Regions from separate parts of the Homo sapiens genome. Here region 2 is linked to region 1. Evidence: fine-mapped expression QTL. A gene starts in region 1. The other region holds a variant in brackets. All regions are shown on one strand. Distances are between the middles of the regions. Region 1 holds the start of CD38 (CD38 molecule). Region 2 overlaps LOC107986186 (a long non-coding RNA gene).

Region 1 (2,912 bases):
CCATTTGACCCAGCAATCTCATTACTGGGTATATACCCAAAGGAATATAAATCATTCTGTTATAAAGATACATGCATGCATATGTTCATTGTAGCACTATTCACAATAGCAATGACATGGAATCAACCCAAATGCCCATCAATGACAGACTGGATAAAGACAATGTGGTACATATACACCAGGGAATACTGTGCAGCCACAAAAAGGAACGAGATCATGTCCTTTGCAGGGACATGGATGGAGCTGGAAGCCATTATCCTCAGCAAACTAACACAGGAACAGAAAACCAAGCACTGCATGTTCTCACTTATAAGTGGGAGCTGAACAATGAACACAGGGAGGGGAACAACACACACTGGGGCCTGTTGGGGAGAGTGGAGGGAGGGAGAGCATCAGAAAGAATAGCTAAAACATGAGGGGCTTAATACCTAAGCAATGGATTGATAGGTGCAGCAAACCACCATGGCACACATTTACCTATGTAACAACTCTGCACGTCCTGTACATGTATCCCAGAACTTAAAACAAAATAAAAAAGATAAAAAATAAATAAAACACACAGTCCAAAAAGTCATCCTGTCTTACAGAGCTATGGGTGATCTGGTCTCCTGCTACTTTCCGAACTTCTGTTCTGTTTCCCTCAACCCTCTAGCCTAACTACAATTGGCCTCCTTGCTGCTCTGGAACAGGCCAAGAGCTTTTCTGCCTCAGAGTCTTTGCACCTGCCATTTCCTCTGCTTGGGAAATGTTTGCCCCAAGGGAGTTGGGTGACTTGATCGCTCACATTACTTAGGTCTCTGCTTGAATGTCACAGATGTTCTCTTAATAAAGAAGAGGCAAGAAAAGCCACTTTATTATTTATTAAACTCCCGCATAGAGTGCAGTATTATTACTGTGTGCCAGACCCTGCTTCAAACACATTCCATGGACTATAAAATTGCATCTCTGAGCAGCTCCTAGAGCTGGTAGTAACAACTTACATTTACTGGGTGATTACCATGTGCCAGGTATTGTGCTAAACACGTTGTAGATATTAACTCACTTAATCCTCGTAACAATCCCATGAAGTAGGTACTGCTACTATCCCGGCTTTACATCTGAAGTACAGAGAGGTTAAGTAACTTGCCCCATGTCATCCAGCAAGAACTAAATTTGAACCCAGAGCTTAGCCACTGATGCCTCTTGAGAGAAGGAGTCAGACTTAAGTTGAGTCTTTAAAGGTGGTTGACCAGGCATTTGTCAGAGTTAAGAAAGAGAGGTAGGACATCCTTTTCCAGGCAGAGGGCATTGTGTGCACACACGTATAGAAGCAGGCAGCCCACCCTCATGCTTTCCAGGAAGCAAATGTGGCTCAGGTGTAAAGTGCCCGGTTGATGAAGGGAGTTAGCGGAGGGAGTATAAGGATGTACTGTCTGCCCCCTTAGGACACCTGCAGAGGATTAAGGTGGCTGTTTCTCCCTGGAGGTGGAGTGGGTGGGTCACTGCACAGGAGCCTATAGTTGTTGGTCTTTTAAACTCTTATTGGTGTAACCAGCCACGGAACTCTGAGGCAAGGGGTTGGGGGTGGGAAGGGAAACAGAGAAAAGGCAAGTGAAACAGAAGGGGAGGTGCAGTTTCAGAACCCAGCCAGCCTCTCTCTTGCTGCCTAGCCTCCTGCCGGCCTCATCTTCGCCCAGCCAACCCCGCCTGGAGCCCTATGGCCAACTGCGAGTTCAGCCCGGTGTCCGGGGACAAACCCTGCTGCCGGCTCTCTAGGAGAGCCCAACTCTGTCTTGGCGTCAGTATCCTGGTCCTGATCCTCGTCGTGGTGCTCGCGGTGGTCGTCCCGAGGTGGCGCCAGCAGTGGAGCGGTCCGGGCACCACCAAGCGCTTTCCCGAGACCGTCCTGGCGCGATGCGTCAAGTACACTGAAATTCATCCTGAGATGAGGTGGGTTGGCGACTAAGGCGCACCGGTGGGCACTGCGGGGACAGCAGGGCCCCGCGCGCAGGGAAGCCGCCCGGATCGCCCGGAACCGGGCATCTTCCGTGGCGGGTCAGCCGAGAGCCCGCCGGGTGGTGCTGAGTAGGGAGTCCCGGGCTCGGGGCTCCGCGGGCCGCTTTCAGGAGCAGCTGGCCTTGGCACCGAGCGTGCCCGCGGGAGGCGGGGGGGGGCGCTGCTCGGTGGCTCTGCTGCGTAGCCGGTGAACACTTGGCACCGATGCCCGCCTTCTGGGCAAGGTGCCCTGAGCCCAGCCCCTCGCCGGGCTGCAGCCCACCCTCGGCGCGCTCAGCCCGCTTCACCGCTTCAGGGACGGAATAGAACTCGCAGATGCAGGGTGTCGCTGACATTTTCAACTTTTTCTGCGGTTTCCGCCCGCTGTCTCTGACCCGAAAGTGCCCCCGGACGGTTACAGAGGACACTTAAGTGGTTTGCAAAGCCTGTGGTAGGGGAGGAGGGTGTAGAAGGGCCAAACCACGGAACTTAGTTTTATTCATTTATATAAAGCAGCACTCCGATTCTTTTTGCGCGGCCTGAAATGCATGTGACCAGAGAAGTAATTAACAAAACAATGTCAACTTCTAAAACCGAGACATTACTTAGATGATAAGGCGCAGCAACTCGGTGAATCTGTACAAACCTTGGAAAAAAAACACATTAGTCTATGGGACCTTCCAGTTTTCTCATGCTCCTTTCCAGCTACTAACCTCTCCTAAAGGGAACAACCACTTTTTGGATTTGATTCCCAGGCCTCGCTTTCACCGGGAAATTATCGTTGCTTGTAAAACAGAAGAAGCCGGGAAGGCAGGCAGGGGGAGCTGCTACTTTACACTCTGTGCTTTGGGATAGCAAAATCCCGCATTTAAGCAATCCGAGGAAACGAGCAAATAGACCTCCCTCGCCTCTCCGAGCACACTCAACAGTTCCGGTTG
Region 2 (2,912 bases), 23 kb before region 1:
TCTGGAAAAGGGAGAAGAATTAGAAGGTATCCATCGTATCTGTAGCAGAGATTTTTTATGTATGTGTGTGCTCCTGTGTATACATGTAGAAACCAAACATCCTGAATGGCTCACGATCGCGCCAGTGGGTGTCCTTTGTCCTTGCATAATTATTAGTAGCATCCCTCTCCATTAGGTGAGCCCTAAGGAGAAAGAGTAGGGTCTTTAAGAATGTTACGAGACACAGAGCCACAAACAGTATTGGGATAGGACCCAGCTCTCAAAGTGTGGCCCAGCCATGGCACAGCTGGAGGTTCGCAGAGATGGTGCCCACCAAAGGCAATGATGGGACATACATAAACTGCCTTGCAGGCAGGGAGAGTCCAAATCGGTCAGGGCCCATCCAGACACACAGATAGCACACTCAAATCAGGAAAATCGGAGGAGGTTTAATAGGGACTATCTGCAAACCATTGATGTGTACAGAGATGCACCAAGGCCTCACAGAGTGAGGCAACAGGGAGGTCATGGGAATCCGGAAGGAGAGAGTCCCATGGAGAGGTCATCTGGAGAAGAGCAGTGGCCTCTGTCAAGGAACCCAGTGGCCTGAGGCAACCCTGCAGGGAGGAAGCCAGCTGAGGGAATGGATAACCGGACCTCAGTCACCTTCCTTCCTTTGGGAGAGCCTCCTGGGGCTGGATCCAGGGCAGAGAGCCAAAGGGAGAGGCTGGAAGATCTGGAAGGCCAAGTGGGGGGGTGTGAGGCCACAGCTTCTTCGTGTGTATCATCAGTGGAGATTGAAAAGAGAGGAAAACCACGATGGAGGCCTGTGGGACTGTGGGCAGCTTTTTCAAGTGCAGATGTGATAATCCCCACGAAGACCCCCGGAAATATTGAGAGGGAGGCTCTTTGAAAGGGGATGGTGTTCTGCAGAACAATAGAGGCTTCATGAGTCGCTAAAGTAGAGGTTGTGAGGATTAGTGTGACCCCATTGTGAAAACTGGCCTAAAAGAACCCAAGGAAACAGGGGTATGTTGAGTTCAGGAACATTGCAGAATTTCCAGATGTTCTCTGAAGCATGCACATGTCTAAGATTGTCTCCTCTCTAAGGGTTGTGTGCAGTTTCTTACCTTCTGTGAGCTGGCTGTGAACTCAGTGCCCCTGGGTGGTAGCAGAAGCATGAATGCTGAGAGGAAGGATGTTGCTGTCAGCACTGTGTGGTTTTGAATGAGATAAAGAATCAACGTCAGATGTAGCTGCACACATACTTTATTTTGTTGAATTTCCAACTGATGAAGTATTTGATAAGCATGCCTGAAAAGATGGAAAAAACGGGCTCTTTCCCAGC[G/A]GTCCATTTTTGTAATTTAAGTACGTAGATTTGTTTTAGTTTACATTTGGTGATTTTTATGTTATTTCTGAAAAGGTAGTATATACACATGGCTTAAAAATAAAACACTATGAAAAAATCTCATTCCCACTCCTGTCCCCTGTTCTGGTCCCACACCTCTAATTCGGATGACCACTTGTTTAAAGTTCATGTAGATCTGTCTAGGGTTTCTTTGCACAAGCACATACAAATACATGTTATTACTCCCTACCTTTTCTTACACAAAAGGAAGCATTAAACACAAAATACTTTGTACTCCTTAATAGTACATCCTGGAGATTATTCTGTATCAATACATACAGAGATCCCTCACTTTATTTTTTACAGCTGCATAATATTCCATGGGAGAGATGTTTTGTAATTTATTTAACCCACCCCGTTAGGAACATCATTTAGGTTGTTTGCAATCAGTTTCTCTTTTTTTTATTTTTTTATTTTTTTGAGATGGAGTCTCACTCTGTCGCCCAGGCTGGAGTGCAGTAGTGCAATCTCAGCTCACTGCAACCTCCGCCTCCCAGGTTCAAGTGATTCTCCTGCCTCGGCCTCTTCAGTAGCTGGGATTACAGGTGTGCACCACCACGCCTGGCTAATTTTTGTATTTTTAGTAGAGATGGGGTTTCACCATGTTTGTCTGGCTGGTCTTGAACTCCTGACCTCTTGATCCGCCCGCCTTGGCCTCCCAAAGTTCTGGGATTACAGGCATGAGCCACCGTGCCTGGCGCCAGTTTCTCTTATAAACAATGCTGCAATGACTAATCTGGTATATTTATTATCTTTCATGTGGGCAGAGATATTTGTAGGTTGAATTCCTAGAAATGGGGTCAGTGAGTCAAAGAGTAAATGCATTTGCAATATTAATGTATTCATTCTTCACTGGATCTCTGTAGTTTAGCAATGAATTGAACAACTGCATATTATTTATGGGTGAAAAGCCCCAAAGAAAAAAGAAATGCTGAGTCCAGATGTCACCTTCAGTCAATGTAGAGTGGTGGTTACCACCAGTGATGAAGGTCTTAGAGTGTTTATGCATCTGTGAGTGTGTGAGTGTGTGCTCATTTGTGTACTCTGAAAACCCTATTTGAAAAAAAAAACTTAACCATTGGGTTATTAGACAGATAATCACTTCACTCCAATTTCAAATCAATGAGTTTCTTATTCCAGCTTATATTCCAATAGTCCAAAGCTTCCAGGGAATAAAGGTAAAACAATCTGAGAGCTCTGAGTTCCTCCACAGGGCAAGTACCATGTAAACTGATAGATGATGTTAAGGTTCTCAAGGTGGTGACTAAACAGTTCTCCCAGTCTCTGCAACATAAACATAAACTTAAAAATTACACTGTAAGCTAGATCTTCATTTTGAAAATAACCATGGAATTTGAAAAAATAAAACTGAAACAAACAAAACACACCACCATGAACAACAAAAACAACAACAAAACAAGGGGGAAAAACCGACTTTCTGGTGTTTTTGCTAAAAGACTGCAGGGTGGGTTGGGGGAAGCTCTTCTCATAAAAGAAAAGTACTAGACAATCTGGTCTTTTAAAG

What was found.
Region 2: its variant is fine-mapped to the expression of CD38 in whole blood (TOPMed, PIP 0.91).

Annotation. Positions count from the first base shown.
Region 1 is chr4:15,776,719-15,779,630 of GRCh38, forward strand. CD38 (CD38 molecule) reads left to right here and starts at 1,610. Exons shown (of 8, transcript NM_001775.4): 1 at 1,610-1,929. The coding sequence starts at 1,697. RefSeq lists enhancers at 1,395-2,037, 1,449-1,948 and silencers at 2,079-2,128, 2,319-2,368.
Region 2 is chr4:15,753,350-15,756,261 of GRCh38, forward strand. LOC107986186 (a long non-coding RNA gene) reads right to left here. Exons shown (of 2, transcript XR_001741393.2): 2 at 722-1,192. It also overlaps a transcript of BST1 not described here. Among named protein-coding and RNA genes, the nearest start is that of CD38, 24 kb to the right of the region's middle. The variant G/A (reference allele first, on the strand shown) is at 1,328.